Linked DNA regions of Homo sapiens. The protein of the gene in region 1 interacts with the protein of each later gene in a biochemical or structural test. Each region holds a gene or a part of one and is shown on either strand. Other genes may lie near its edges.

What was found. Proteins that work in one complex are often made in the same cells at the same time.
Region 2: the proteins of INSIG1 (region 1) and FAF2 form a complex in vitro, tested with the Homo sapiens proteins (one study listed by BioGRID).

The regions. Positions count from the first base shown.
Region 1 is NC_000007.14:155,300,810-155,307,904, reverse strand, and holds part of INSIG1 (insulin-induced gene 1 protein), read right to left. Parts: intron 6,340-7,095; coding exon 6,215-6,339; coding exon of another isoform or gene 6,185-6,214; intron 5,655-6,184; coding exon 5,488-5,654; intron 5,159-5,487; coding exon 5,059-5,158; intron 4,081-5,058; coding exon of another isoform or gene 4,010-4,080; intron 1-4,009. UniProt on the Homo sapiens protein: Oxysterol-binding protein that mediates feedback control of cholesterol synthesis by controlling both endoplasmic reticulum to Golgi transport of SCAP and degradation of HMGCR.
Region 2 is NC_000005.10:176,444,489-176,451,384, reverse strand, and holds the start of FAF2 (FAS-associated factor 2), read right to left. Parts: upstream 3,001-6,896; 5' UTR 2,978-3,000; coding exon 2,915-2,977; intron 1-2,914. UniProt on the Homo sapiens protein: Plays an important role in endoplasmic reticulum-associated degradation (ERAD) that mediates ubiquitin-dependent degradation of misfolded endoplasmic reticulum proteins.

The DNA of each region.
Region 1 (7,095 bases):
AATATCTATATAAAGGAAACACCCAATTTTATCAAAGCATGGTGATGCTTAGGGTATGATAGGTTCCTGAAAGTTCTAACTGCAATTTAAGGGATTGAACCTTTATCTGAAGGGAGGTTTCTGCCACAAACCTTTATTAGTATCTGATGCCTGTGTTATAACCCACCTTACCAGCAGTTTGTTGAAACAGACATTGGAAATAGGTCATGCTTTGTAATACTGAAGCTCTGTGTGCCCTCAATTCACACAGAGCTTCACAGTTGGGAAATCCTTTCTACATGTTCTTCCTCATCTGACCCTCACAGAGCTTCTGAGAGGTAGACACTACAGTTACTACTATGACCAGGCACCTCAGGGTAAATTCTTAATGGAGAACAGTATTTCACTGATGAAGAAGCAAAGCCAGAGAGATTAAATGACCTTCCTGAGGCCACGGAGCTTCTGCTAAAGGGCAAAAGAGAAACCTCCATACAGAATTTTTTTCCCTCAGAATCGTGACTTCCCACGTTACTTAATTGCCCTCCACTCACTTTAAGAGGAAGGAGCTGAGCTCCTCACCTTCAGCAATGACGGAGATTACTCATCCAGAAAACAGCAAGAGCCTCTCATCTGAACAGACAGGTAAGAAAGTCATGAGTCTGGGTTGAGTCACCCAGGTATGCCAGTTACTACCCTGGGGACACACACAATAAGACCTTCTAGGAAACATACATGCTTTTAGGAATTGATCATGTGAAAGCACTGCCAATTTTTAGATATGAACACTGGGAGGGTTCTATACAAACTGCGGTGAGAAAACAAAAGAGCAAACTCTTGGCAGCAACCTGGAAAGAAAACTGGTCATCACATTTGACTCCCTGTTCACTAATGTGCTGATAAATAAATGGGAAGTGGACTTTTAGAATCCCTGGTCGACAGAGGCCACAGTGAGGCCTGGCAAAGACGCCAGAGACGAACGACAGCCAGCCCGGGCGGACCTGACACGTGGCACAGGGACTTCCAGCAGTGTTGCCTAATGGTGGCACATTGTAAATGGCAACCCAGACACCAACACAGGCTGCTGTAAACCTGCTTCCAGGGTGAAGGCAGGTGCGAGCTATGTGTTGAAAGGGCAGTGTGGTATGCTAATGAGAAGCACGGTGCCACGTCGACCTCTGCCACCCACTTGGCCAAGTTGTTTAATCTTCCTAAGCTGCAATTTCCCCTTTTAAAAATGGGCTAATAATAGTTTCTACTTCAAAGACTTGTGTTATGAGGACTAAACTGGCTAACAATGGAAACGCTCAGCACAATGCCTCCTGTGCAGCAGTAAGAGCCCAACAAATGTAAACCCTCAATAACAATAATAGTATTATTATCATTAGCAGCTGAATTGGGTCAATCAAAAACAGGAACGGCAAATCAAATCCCAAGCTGACACTGAGGTGGGCGGGACTCTGCCTCCAGGTGGCCCAGTGGGGCCGGGCAGTGGCAGCAGGACAGGCTTGATTGCTGTTGGCAGTTTGCAGCTTACTCTTGAGAAAGGACTTGAAGCTACAAACAGCAACAACTACAAGTTCTATAAATGATGGTTACAGACTCATTTTCTTTTAAACATACAGGCTGGGCCGGGCGCGGTGGCTCATGCCTGTAATCCCAGCACTTTGGGAGGCAGAGGCAGGTGGATCACCTGAGGTCAGGAGTTCGAGACCAGCCTGGCCAACGTGGCGAAACCCCGTCTCTACTAAAAACAGAAAAATTAGCCAGGTGCGGTGGTGGGCGCCTGTGATCCCAGCTACTTGGGAGGCTGAGGCAGGATAATCATTTGAACCTGGGAGACGGTTCAAATGCAGTGAGCCAAGATTGTGCCACTGCACTTTAGTCTGGGTGACAAAGCAAGACTCCGTCTCAAAAAAAGTAAAAATAAAAACAAACAAAAAGCAAACAAAAAAACCGTAACAGGCTGATAACAAATGTTTCTGCTGTATTTTCGGACACAAAGGACAACGGCATGTGTGGGGGGAAATACCACATAGAAAAAGCTAGGAGACCATATAACTTGAAGCAAAGCCAACTTGTAACTTTTGAGCATGGTTATTCTTGCAAGTAACTATGTTTCTTCTTAAGGGAGGGAAGCATAAGTTAGAACAAAGGCATCTGAAGAGAACTGAGACAGCTAAGAAGGAGAGGGTGTGGAGTGCACTGGGCAAAACCATCAGCACCAAACACAGACCTCAAATTACCCTGGATCTGGGCGGGTCTGGTCCCGGTGCTGAACTGAGCCTCGGAATCTCTTCACCTTCAGACTGTCAACAACTTCACTCTCGTCATCTCCCTTCACAAAGCCTTACTTGGTGTAGGTTTCAACCTTAAACCAATAGCTCTTAGACACTATCCCTGGAACATTCAGCCACTTCCATTTTGTGAGTCAACAGTATGACAAGAGTGGAATGTGGGGAAGGCTGCCCTGGGAGAAAACACGCACCACGAATGCAACCTGGGGCACAGCCTGAGGAACGGATGCAGCAGGAGGGAGGGGACTGCACTGTGAAGCCCCTGGGCCATTTCCGGGGTTTGATGGATAGAAATGAGTTTGCAAATTTTGAAGTGAAAAAAAGAGTAACAGTTGGGATCCAGAGGTAAGGATTTAAGTATTTATGAATAAAAACAGTGGTAGGCGGGTTAGGCTTAGAACCTCAGAGGTCAGTTTCATGTGATAGCCCAGCAGGGAAGGGGATTAAGGTGGTGATCTCTCTTCTCCAGTTTTTTTTTTTTTTTTTGAGACAGAGTCTTGCTCTGTCACCCAGGCTGGAATGCAGTGGCACAATCTCGGCTCATTGCAAGCTCTGCCTCCCGGGTTCACGCCATTCTCCTGCCTCAGCATCCCAAGCAGCTGGGACTACAGGTGCCCACCACCACGCCTGGCTATTTTTTTTTTTTTTTTGTATTTTTAGTACAGACGGGGTTTCACTGTGTTAGCCAGGATGGTCTCGATCTCCTGACCTCGTGATCCGCCCGCCTCAGCCTCCCAAAGTGCTGGGATTAAAGGCGTGAGCCACCGCGCCCAGCCTCTCTCCTCCAGTTTTAAGATACGAGAACATCCAAACATTTTCCCCCAAGCTTAAAGAATAAAAAGGATGAAGAGAAAGCTGAAGTAAGGAGAATTATAATTACACCAACTATCCTATTTTGAGTTATCTTTAACATTTTTTTCTGTAAGCAAAGGAGCACAGCAGGGATTACTTAATGAAACTATCTTCAAAACGAAAATGTTTCCTCCAACCATTTCTAGATGTTTAGAACTTATGAATGTTGTGAAATTTCTACCTCCACCAAAATAATGCTTATTTCTTAAAACCGATTTAAAAAGCCTTGACATATAACAGCACCAACCTATCAAACAGAAATAACCAACTCTTTAAATGTTATTCAAGTTGTAGTTATAATGTGTAATTAGTCAATCTGGTTGAGGACAATTTTATTCTAAAAACCTTCTTAGGAATTCTCTCCCAAAGAGTACCGAAACAAAAATCTCAAAGCAAGAAAGCAATGATGGAGTTGCCAGCTCTCCTTTGAAGACTATTAACGGGGATGATGGCGAATGCATGAAAACAACATACTATTTCCATGTGGGACCATCCGACCAGATTTTTAATATTAAAAAAAGCAAGGCCAGGCTCACGCCTATAATCCCAGTGCTTTGGGAGGCCAAGGTGGGAGGATGGCTTGAGCCCACGAGTTCGAGCCCGGCCTGGACAAGGCAGGGAGATAACATCTCCACAAAAAGCAAAAAAGTTAGCCGGGTATGGTGGCATGTGCCTGTAATCCCAGCTACTCGGGACGCTGAAGCGGGAGGATTGCTTGAGTCCGGGAGCTCAAGGTTACAGTGAGCTATGATGGCACCACTGCACTCCAGAGCTCTGTCTCAAAAAAAAAAAAAAAAAAAAAAGGCAAGCAAAGTCCTTTCTTCTCCATCATGAGAAATTTGGCAGCAGAGAGTCAGTAACCAGTGGAAGACTGCAAATTCTACCTGTAATTACTTCTGGTTTTGTGAAACAGCCAAGTGGTCTTCAAATTCAACTCCTCACAGAAGGGTATCAGCTGGCAAAAATAAATGTACTGTTTTAAAAATAGCATGAGGTACTAAGATAAGTTTTCCCAGAGCTTATCTCCGAGAGCAACAGCTCTAGGTTTTTGTTGTTTTTTTTAATTTACTTTCTTTCAGCCTGCCAAAGTCAACTCAAAATAACATTTAAAAGTCCACCTCTATGTTTTTAAATTGAAGTGCTAAGATGTCAATTTTTAACTAATGAGAACTGCTAAAGCCATCCTGGAGTTCACTACCTTTCCGTCTCCCTCAGGGGGGCTGTGAGAGAAGCTCTGCGGGGTAGCACTGCTTTCTCCTGCAGCTGAGAACAGATGCAATGTTCAGGCAGGACAGTCCGTCTACATGGTGACCCGGCCACGTGCAGCGGTGCTCTCATCACCACTTCTCCATGCCCAGGGCCACCTGCCCCACAGAAAGGTGCTGCCTGCCTGAACCAGGCTGTCCCCTTGCCCACCCACATTAGTCCCTGCCCTGGCCCGAGACAGACTCTGCAGCCTCAGGCTCGATTTGCTTGACTGTGGACTAAGAGGCCAGCATCATCTGCATCCACTCTGATTTTGTGAAAAGAAACACTGGTGGACTGATGCTCAGGGAGCAAAGTATCACTGCATGAGGTCATCCAGATCTGCTTCCGATGGTGAAGGAGGAGGGGACACTCACACACCAGTCACTTTCTCTACTGCTTACTACAGAAATTTCAAGAATTCAGAACACTGACCACATCTGCAATTCAAAGGGGCAGTGCGAGGGCTCTAGTTCCTTTTCTAGATCAAATATTATGAATTTTTATAATTTAGCAAAGAATTACCTGGGTATCATTACCTATTTTTTTAAATATAAGCTTTTCTCAGTAGTTGTCACTCAAGTCTGAACCAGAATATATGAACGCAAATTTGAATGTATCATGTAAAGTCATTCTATCAAGGTAAAGAGACGCAAGTTTTAGAAGATAATATGATCATTTCACTTACCATAGCTAACTGTCGTCCTATGTTCCCCACCGTGACGCCTCCTGAGAAAAATATACAAGGGAGCCAAGAACGAATATAGAGGAAATCTGGGGATGTATACCTGGAGCGAGAAAAGAAACTGTACCTTAGCAGTCAATTTCACCTGGCTCAATTCTACATCACAGATTCTCTGTAGTGGGGATATGCAGAACGCATATCAACCATCCAATGTTACGAATGTTCATATTTGTTTGGTTGTAACTGCTACTACTTGGTTTTCCTTTGCGTTACATTAAGTTATGGATAGCAGCATTTTTGAGAATTTCATGCCTAAATCTGTATCATTCTATATAAAAAACAAATAAAATATGAAAATATCTAAGCTTAGTGGATGTTTTAATGAAAGTTAAGTAAGCTTTCCAAAGCCAATATTTGAAAACACACACTTACTGATAGACACCATTATACACGAGAAACTGCGTGATCAGCGTAGCTAGAAAAGCTATGGTGATCCCCAGCCCAAGGCCACTTCTGGAACGATCAAATGTCCACCAAAGGCCCAAAGATAGGGCTGCTAAAGTCAAGGACAGCTGGACATTATTGGCAAAATCCAATTTCTGGTGATATAAAAGTTAAGGAAAAGTTTGCTGACTCTTATTAAGATAAAAAAACGTAAAACCACAAGGGTTAAAAACATGGGTATTTTATTATTGTACCACAGATAATTCACTGTCCATAAAAACTGTGTAATAAGCTAAAGAAAGGATTTGTTGGATACAGGTTACAGTAATCATTAAGATCACCTGAAATCTCCCTGCCATCACTGAGTCAAAAACTTAACCATAAGAATAAACTTGCTGAAAGCTATATATAAAGTGCTTATATATATTTATATAAATATATATTTATTATATATATTATATATATTTAAAAATATATATAATATATATAAAAATATAAATAAATATATATTTATTTTGACCATAAAACAATATATTTTACTATGAAGTCATCGATAGCCCCATTCTTCTTTCTCTTTTTAGTAATCTGAAATGGGTAGGTACCACCATCATGTCTGTATTATGACATGGAGTCATTTGAGTATATAACAAAACAAAACGCTTCAATATATAACCTAAGAAGATACTCTGGACGTAGCACAGAAAATTAAGGATACAGCACTGGCGTGGTTAATGCCAACAAAAACTGCTATGCAGCGCATGACACTGGCCCATTCTCTCTTAAATTTGTGGGGTTCTCCGAGGTGACTGTCGATACAGGGGTACAGTAGGCCAACAACAGCTGTTTTAAAAAAGTTGACAATGTTAGAATACAGCAGATTCAAGTTCCAGAATTTCAACGTGGTCATTAGTAACACAGTACATTACTCAAACCAGTCCTTTTCCTAGAAAAAATTATCAGCTATAACTTCAGAGTGATTTTATATTCTTGTTCTCTTTGAGTACCACTCCCACAAAATTGTACTGTTTGGAAAAGTTTTTTAAAAATCACTATTATTTAGTGTAGTTGAACATGTCTCAGTAAACACAGGAAGGAATCAAGCAGGGATTATTCATATTAATATGAGCAATATGTAACCTTATATTTAATATCCACATTTGCCTAAAGCACACAGAACTTAAATGACTATGTAGTTCACCTTGTCTTTTCATCCGGTGTGATTTCTATCTTACAATAAAAAGGTTAGCATCTGTCCACACCCTGTCACATCACAGCTCTGACACTCCTGCCACCACCCAGTACTGGGGCTGGGCACGTGATGAGATACATATTTGCTGATGTGACTTTGACAGTCTGGGTCACATGCTCCTAGAGTGGCCCTGGAGTTGATTTTCGGGGGTTCTAGCATGTTCTGTACGAGGCACTGAGCACCTACTGTGCACACATGCACATGGGCAAGTACGGGGCGAGACAGCCCCACACAGGCTTCGCTTATTCTCCATCTGGTTCCCGCATGGTCAAGCCTCAAGCTGCGGAAAGAACACCAGACCAAGAAGAGAAAACTCAGCCTCAAATCCCAGCTTGCCCTCTGATGGG
Region 2 (6,896 bases), on another chromosome or scaffold:
AAAATTTTTTTTTTGAGACAGAGTCCCGCTCTGTTGCCCAGGCTGGAGTGCAGTGGCACGATCTTGGCTCACTGCAACCTCCACCTCCCGGGTTCAAGTGAGCCTCCTGCCTCAGCCCCCCTAGTAGCTGGGATTACAGGCACATGCCACCATGCCTGGCTAATTTTTGTATTTTTAGTAGAGACGAGGTTTTGCCATGTTGGCCAGGCTGGTCTCGAACTCCTGATCTCAGGTGATCCACCTGCCTCGGCCTCCCAAAGTGCTGGGATTACAAGCATGAGCCACCACACATGGTCTAAAATATTTTTCTTAAAAAAAGAGTTAATGTACATCAACTGCTGCTTGGTATAATGCTTGGCATCTAATAAGTTTCAACAACTGTTTGTTTAATGGCAGTCTGGATAATGAATCTGATCCAGCGATTGCTTATAGAATAGAAAAATGAAAGATGCATTTCCCTCAATAAATCCAATTTCATAAGGCAATCTTAATACAGCTCGAACCTGCTACCCACCTCTCTTCTAATAAAGATCTCCACAGTTTTGGCCGGGCGCGGCGGCTCACGCCTGTAATCCCAGCCGAGGAGGGCGGATCACGAGGTCAAGAAATCGAGACCATCCTGGCCAACATCGTGAAACCCCGTCTCTACTAAAAATACAAAAAATTCGCTGGATGTGGTGGCGCGTGCCTGTAGTCCCAGCTACTCGAGAGGCTGAGGCAGGAGAATCGCTTGAAACTGGAAGGCGGAGGTTGCAGTGAGCCGAGATCGCGCCACTGCACTCCAGCCTGGGCAACAAGAGCGAAACTCCGTCTCAAAAAAAAAAAAAAGATCTCCACAGAAGATAAAATGGAGGTTCCTATGCACTTTACTTCAGAAATGCTATCATAGATTTATATTCATGCTCTTCCAGTATGAGACTAAATATACCATAATTTATAACTCACATTACTTCATTGCACTTAAACCACATGTTAGCTTACCCCTGAAGAGTTCTAAGGGGTAAAATGGTCTGCCAAAGTTAAACAACACTCTGAAATTGGTGGTCTACCTGGAAGTGTAAGCTGGTTGTCTGTTTAACTCATTCTCTAATAATAATTTGCTGGGTCATCAATTCAATTTCTCTACCAAAAATTCCAATCAAATGTCAATTACATCTATGACAGCATTTTTCCATTTATACACTTCCAACACACTGCTCAATTTAAGAGGGGAAAAAATAACCACTTCAAAATTTATTATAGTGAAGTCTATTCAAGGAAATTGCAAAAAAGTGAGAACTCGCCAAAAAAATATTTATTTTCTCAGCATTTGCATTCCACACTCAACTGTACACTGAAATATAAGTTGCACAAGACAGAAGTCAGAAGCCTGGGAAGGGTTCTGGAAGATGGACATAGCTTTAAATCTGACACCATCATTTTCTAGCTGTGTAACCTAAGCATTTTATTTCTTAGTCCTGATACCCTTCATCTGTAAATCAGGGACTAGAACAGTATGAACCTCATAGGGTTGCTGTATTAAATGAGGTTATGTATGCTAAGTGTTTACAAAGTACTTACATCTGAAATAGTAAGTGGGATTCTACCTAGCAGCGCTGCGCACTAAGGTTCTTCATATAGTTGAATAAATGAATATTTACACATTTTATATAAGGAAATAAGTGTATCAATAACTTTAGGTCTATCCTAAGTCAAATTAATAGCAGAAAATACTATTTGGGGGCATTTTGCAGTCTACAAGGCCCTTCTAACATCCATATGTCCATTTGATCTCCCGAACATCCTCAGGAGGTAGATTTTTTTTTTTTTGAGACGGAGTTTCACTCTTGTTGCCCAGGCTGGAGTGCAGTGGCACGATCTCGGCTCACTGCAACCTCCGCCTCCCGGGTTCAAGCGAGTCTCCTGCCTTAGCCTCCCGAGTAGCTGGGACCACAGGCGTGCACCACCACGCCCGGCTAATATTTGTATTTTTAGTAGAGACGGGGTTTCACCATATTGGCCAGAGTGGTCTCGAACTCCTGACCTCGTGATTCGCTGGCCTTGGCCTCCCAAAGTGCTGGGATTACAGGCGTGAGCCACCGCTCCTGGCCTGGGGGTAGACATTTTTAAGACAGTCCTTTCAGAGATAAGGAAACTGGTAACAAAGTGCCAAGGTTACCCACCCTAGTGGTATCCTCCAACCATTCTCCAGCTCAGGGGTAAGTGATCAGTGGCAAATGTTCTTAATACAACATCTTGTATTAACATAACATTTCTGCAAGTTACCACCCTCCTCAAGCATAGTTAAGCACAGGAATCCAGGAATAAGCCAAAAGTAATAAATCCCGACAGACCACTGATGACACTTATCATCTTGCATTGTTTCCTCACTTGGTGTCCTCCCACACCTCTAGGGCGGGGACCAGATCTGTGTGTAGGTGCCCCCTCCCCGACCGGAACCCCCAACACGAAACCTGGTATCCAAGAGGCCCCAGTTTGTGGGAGTGTATGTGGAAATGGCATGGGATGCTGGCAGGAGGTTTTCCTGTCAGAGACCCGAAATGACGCCAACTCCGCGGTGGGGACTAAGCTTCTCCGGCAGATATAGACTCGTTGGGCGGAGAGGGTCCGACCGATAACCGGGCTGGGAAGGATGGCTGAGGACTGACGCCGCTAAGGCAAACCAGGGAAGCTGACACGCTGAGGGCACAGAGGCACAGACGAGGCGGGTCTGCCCGCAGCGATGGCTGGAAGGCTAGGGTCCAACAGAGGCTTGGGGGCCGGGGGAATCAGGGCAGTTGGAGTCTGGGGGGGAGGGGGCCGGCCTGCTGGTCTGAGAAGGATCTGAACCCAATCTGAGGAGGGTTCTGAACTCCTCTAGGGGCCTACTCCCCATCCCACGGAGGCATCTGCTGCACCGAGTACTCGCTGCTACCTGAAACTGCAGCAGCTTCTCTGTCTGCTCCTGGGTTAGATCCCGCTCCTCAGGCGCCGCCATTTTGCCGCCGCCTCTACGCTCCTGACCCGTCCGCACCGTCACCCGCCGGAACTGACCTCAGCCACAACCACATCCGGTCTGAACGGCCGCCGGCGCGCAACTGCGTCTGCGCGCGCTGGCCCACTAACCTCCCCCCGCCCCCCGCCACCTCTGGCCGCCGCCAGAGGGCGCCACGCTCGGGCCTATCCCGAACACTTCCGGAAATTGCCGAGGGACTGTCGGTACAAGTCGCTCTTACCATTTAGGCGACGAAAGGATCTGCTAAGATTAGGCGACGAAAGGAGACCTAAGATTCCAGTGCAGTCTTGCAGAGCCGAGAGGGCCCGAATGTGCCTCGAGAAGCTCCGGAGCATCCCGAATGGCATTCGGCTGATTTCGGCTGCTCTCTAACCATTTTCCGGCAACCTCAGATACTCTTGGAGGTTTCTCGGGAGACGCAGCCGTTCCGAAATACCAGCCTTTTGGTCGCTGGCCCCTGACCTAAAGTTTCCAAAAGCTCCTGACCATCTCTCGGGAGGTTCCGAAGGGCTCTGGATACTGGCGCGGCATTTCCGACGCCGCCTTCGAAGCGGAAGCTGTGGGCAGACTTCGGCCACCGTTCCATTGCCGCTTCGGGGTCACTTGCAGGAAGATCTGGACTCGGCTCCCCGGATCCTCGACCATTCATGGCGCCCCCAGTCGTCCGCACAGCTTGCCGTCCACCGCCGTGACTGCGGCGCTGGAACCCCGGCCCGGCATCTGCTTTTCCGTGCCTGGAGCCTTGTCTCTCCGCACTAGCGCTGCACTGGCCCCTTGTCTCTGTGACAGGCGAAGAAAGATCCCTGGACCGGGATTAGGAGACGCGGGTTCTAGTTGCCACCTTGCCAACTGCTGGACATCCTTGGGCAAACCACTTGGGCTCCATTTTGCCATTTGTTGAATGAGATTCCCCAAAAGCCCCTGACGTGCTGCCGCCGCCCCTTCTCCTCGAGGCAGTCCCCTGCCCTTCCCTTCTGCTGCTTACACTACCCTATCACCACCCCTCAATCTCTATCTTCCTCTGCACGTCCCTTGCCCCTTCTAGTCCGCCACCTCTCTTTAGATTTCCCGTTTTCATTTCCACCTCTCCCGCCGAACGCCTCCTCTGCCCACCTTCCAGAGAGGCCTGGGTCTGGTACACGCTTTTCCACTGACCACCTGTGTGATTCTCAGCAAGGCTCTCGGCCGCCTGCGCCCCACCCTCGTCCCCTTGCAGGGTTGATCCGGTGAGACAGAAAAGGCTTTGAGAGCTGGTTCTGTGAAGAGTACATGAAATTTTGGCTACTTCTTTCAGGACTTATCAGGTCTTACCAGGTCTGCACAAACCACGACGTCCTGGAAAAACAGCACATGGTACGCCCTAAAACACAACCCCCAAAAAGTGCTAATTGGAAAAACAAAACAAAACAAAACAAAAACCCTGCAAATTTGGATCTGCATATGAAATCTTTCCGTTTAAAAATGGTGTCGGCCGGGCTCTGTGGCTCACGCCTGTAATCCCAGCGCTTTGGGTGGCCGAGGCGGGCGGATCACTTGAGGTCAGGAGTTCGAAACTGGCCTGGCCAACATGGCGAAACCCTGTCTCTACTAAAAATACAAAAATTAGCCAGGGTTGGTGGCGCACGCCTGTAGTCCTAGCTACTCGGGAGGCTGAGGCAGGAGAATCGCTTGAATCTGGGAGGCGGAGGTTGCAGTGAACTGAGATTGCCCCACTGTACTCCAGCCTGGGCGACGGAGTGAGACTCCGTCTCAAAAATAAATAAATAAATAAATAATATGTCAATTAAGTAAAAACCCCCGAAGGTAAAATCGGAAGCAGATAGCTGCTACTCTATAGAGAATTTATTACAGCAGCTCAAAGCTCAAAGGAAACTCAGTGTTGTTCAATCTCACCAATAACGTTGGGTTCAGATAAACTAAATGAGGGTTGGCAAAGTCAGATGTCCTCAGGAATTGTGTAATTCTCACTTAAGATATATACTTGCCAGCAGGCATGGTGGCAAATGCCTGTAGTCCCAGCTACTCGGGAGGCTGAGGTGAGAGGACCACTTGAGGCCATGAGTTCAAGGCTGTTGTATGCTGTGATCACACCACTGCATTCCAGCCTGGGTAACATATTCTTTCAACAGACCTAATTTGTAGTTATATGAAACACCATTGAATATTTCTTCACTTCCTCAAAGAAAGTTACACTTTCTTTTTCTATCTTTCTGTTTTCTTCTTTCTTTCTTTCTTTTCTTTGAGACGGAGTCTTGCTCTATCGCCCAGGCTGTAGTGCAGTGGCCTGATCTTGGCTCACTGCAAGCTCTGCCTCCTGGGTTCATGCCATTCTCCTGCCTCAGCCTCCTGAGTAGCTGAGGCTTACAGGTGCCTGCCACCATGCCCGGCTAATTTTTTTTTTGTATTTTTAGTAGAGATGGGGTATCACCGTCTTAGCCAGGATGGTCTACGATCTCCTGACCTCGGGATCCGCCCGCCTCGGCCTCCCAAAGTGCTGGGATTACAGACGTGAGCCATCGCACCTGGCCCTGTTTTCTTCTTTCAATAAAGATTAGGTTACAAGAAATAATTCATTTGTTTAAAACTCTACTTTAATGTGTCTCCGTGTGGGGACAAAATATGAAAAGCCGGAGTGTCCATTCCCTGTCCAAAGGTGGTTTTTGGCCAGACGCGGTGGTTCATGCCTGTAATCCCAGCATTCTGGGAGGCCAAGGTGGGAGGATTGTTTGAGCCTAGGAGTTGGGGACCAGCCTAGGCAATATAGTGAGACTGCCTCTACCAATTTTTTTTTTTTTTTTTAATTAGCCAAGTGTGGGCCGGGCACGGTGGCTCACACCTGTAATCCTAGCACTTTGGGAGGCTGAGGCGGGCAGATCTTGAGGTCAGGAGATCAAGACCATTCTGGCTAACACAGTGAAACCCTGTCCCTACTAAAAATAAAAAAAAATTAGCCAGGCATGGTGGCAGATGCCTGTAGTCCCAGGCCGAGGCAGGAGAATCGCTTGAACCTGGGAAGCAGAGGTTGCGGTGAGCCGAGATCGTGCCACTGCACTCCAGCCTGGGCAACAGAGCGAGACTCTGTCTCAAAAAAAAAAAAAAAGTTAGCTGAGTGTGTTAGTACGCATCTGCAGTTCTACCTAGTTAGGATGCTGAGGCAGGGATGATCACTTAAACCCGGGAGGCAGAGGTTGCAGTGAGCCATAGTCATGACTGCACTCCAGCCTGGGTAACAGAGCAAGACCCTGTCTCAAAAAAACAAACAAAAACAAAACAAAACAAAAAACAGACGGTTTCTGCCTTTTAGCTGTGGAGGATGGCTTCCATGTATTGCCGGAACTGCCCATTTTTTTTTCAGAGCACAGACATTCTCACCCCCCCAAAAAAATGTGAGGTGATGCATATGTTCATCAGCTTGATTTAGCCATTCCACAAAGTACACATATTTCAAAACATCATGTCCTACATGATACATTTTATTTGAAAAACATCACATTGTACACCTTAAAAAGTAAAATATGCTAATTTGAAAAGAAAAACTCTACACATTTGGATTTCCATGTGAAATCCCCCCATTTAAAAATGGTGTTGGCCAGGCGCGGTGGCTCATGCCTGTCATCTCAGCCCTTTGGAAGGCCGAGGTGGGTGGATCATCTGAGGTCAGGAGTTCAAGACCAGCCTGGACAACATGGTAAAACCCCGTCTCTATGAAAAATAGAAAAATTAGCCAGGGATGGTGGCCCGCACCTGTAATCCCAGCTACTTGGGAGGCTGAGGCAGGAGAATCACTTGAACCTGGGAGGCGGCGGTTGCAGTGAGTCGAGATCACGCCATTGCACTCCAGCTTGGAAGATAAGAGTGAAACTCCGTCACAAAAAGAAAAAAAGAAAAAGGTGTGAACTAA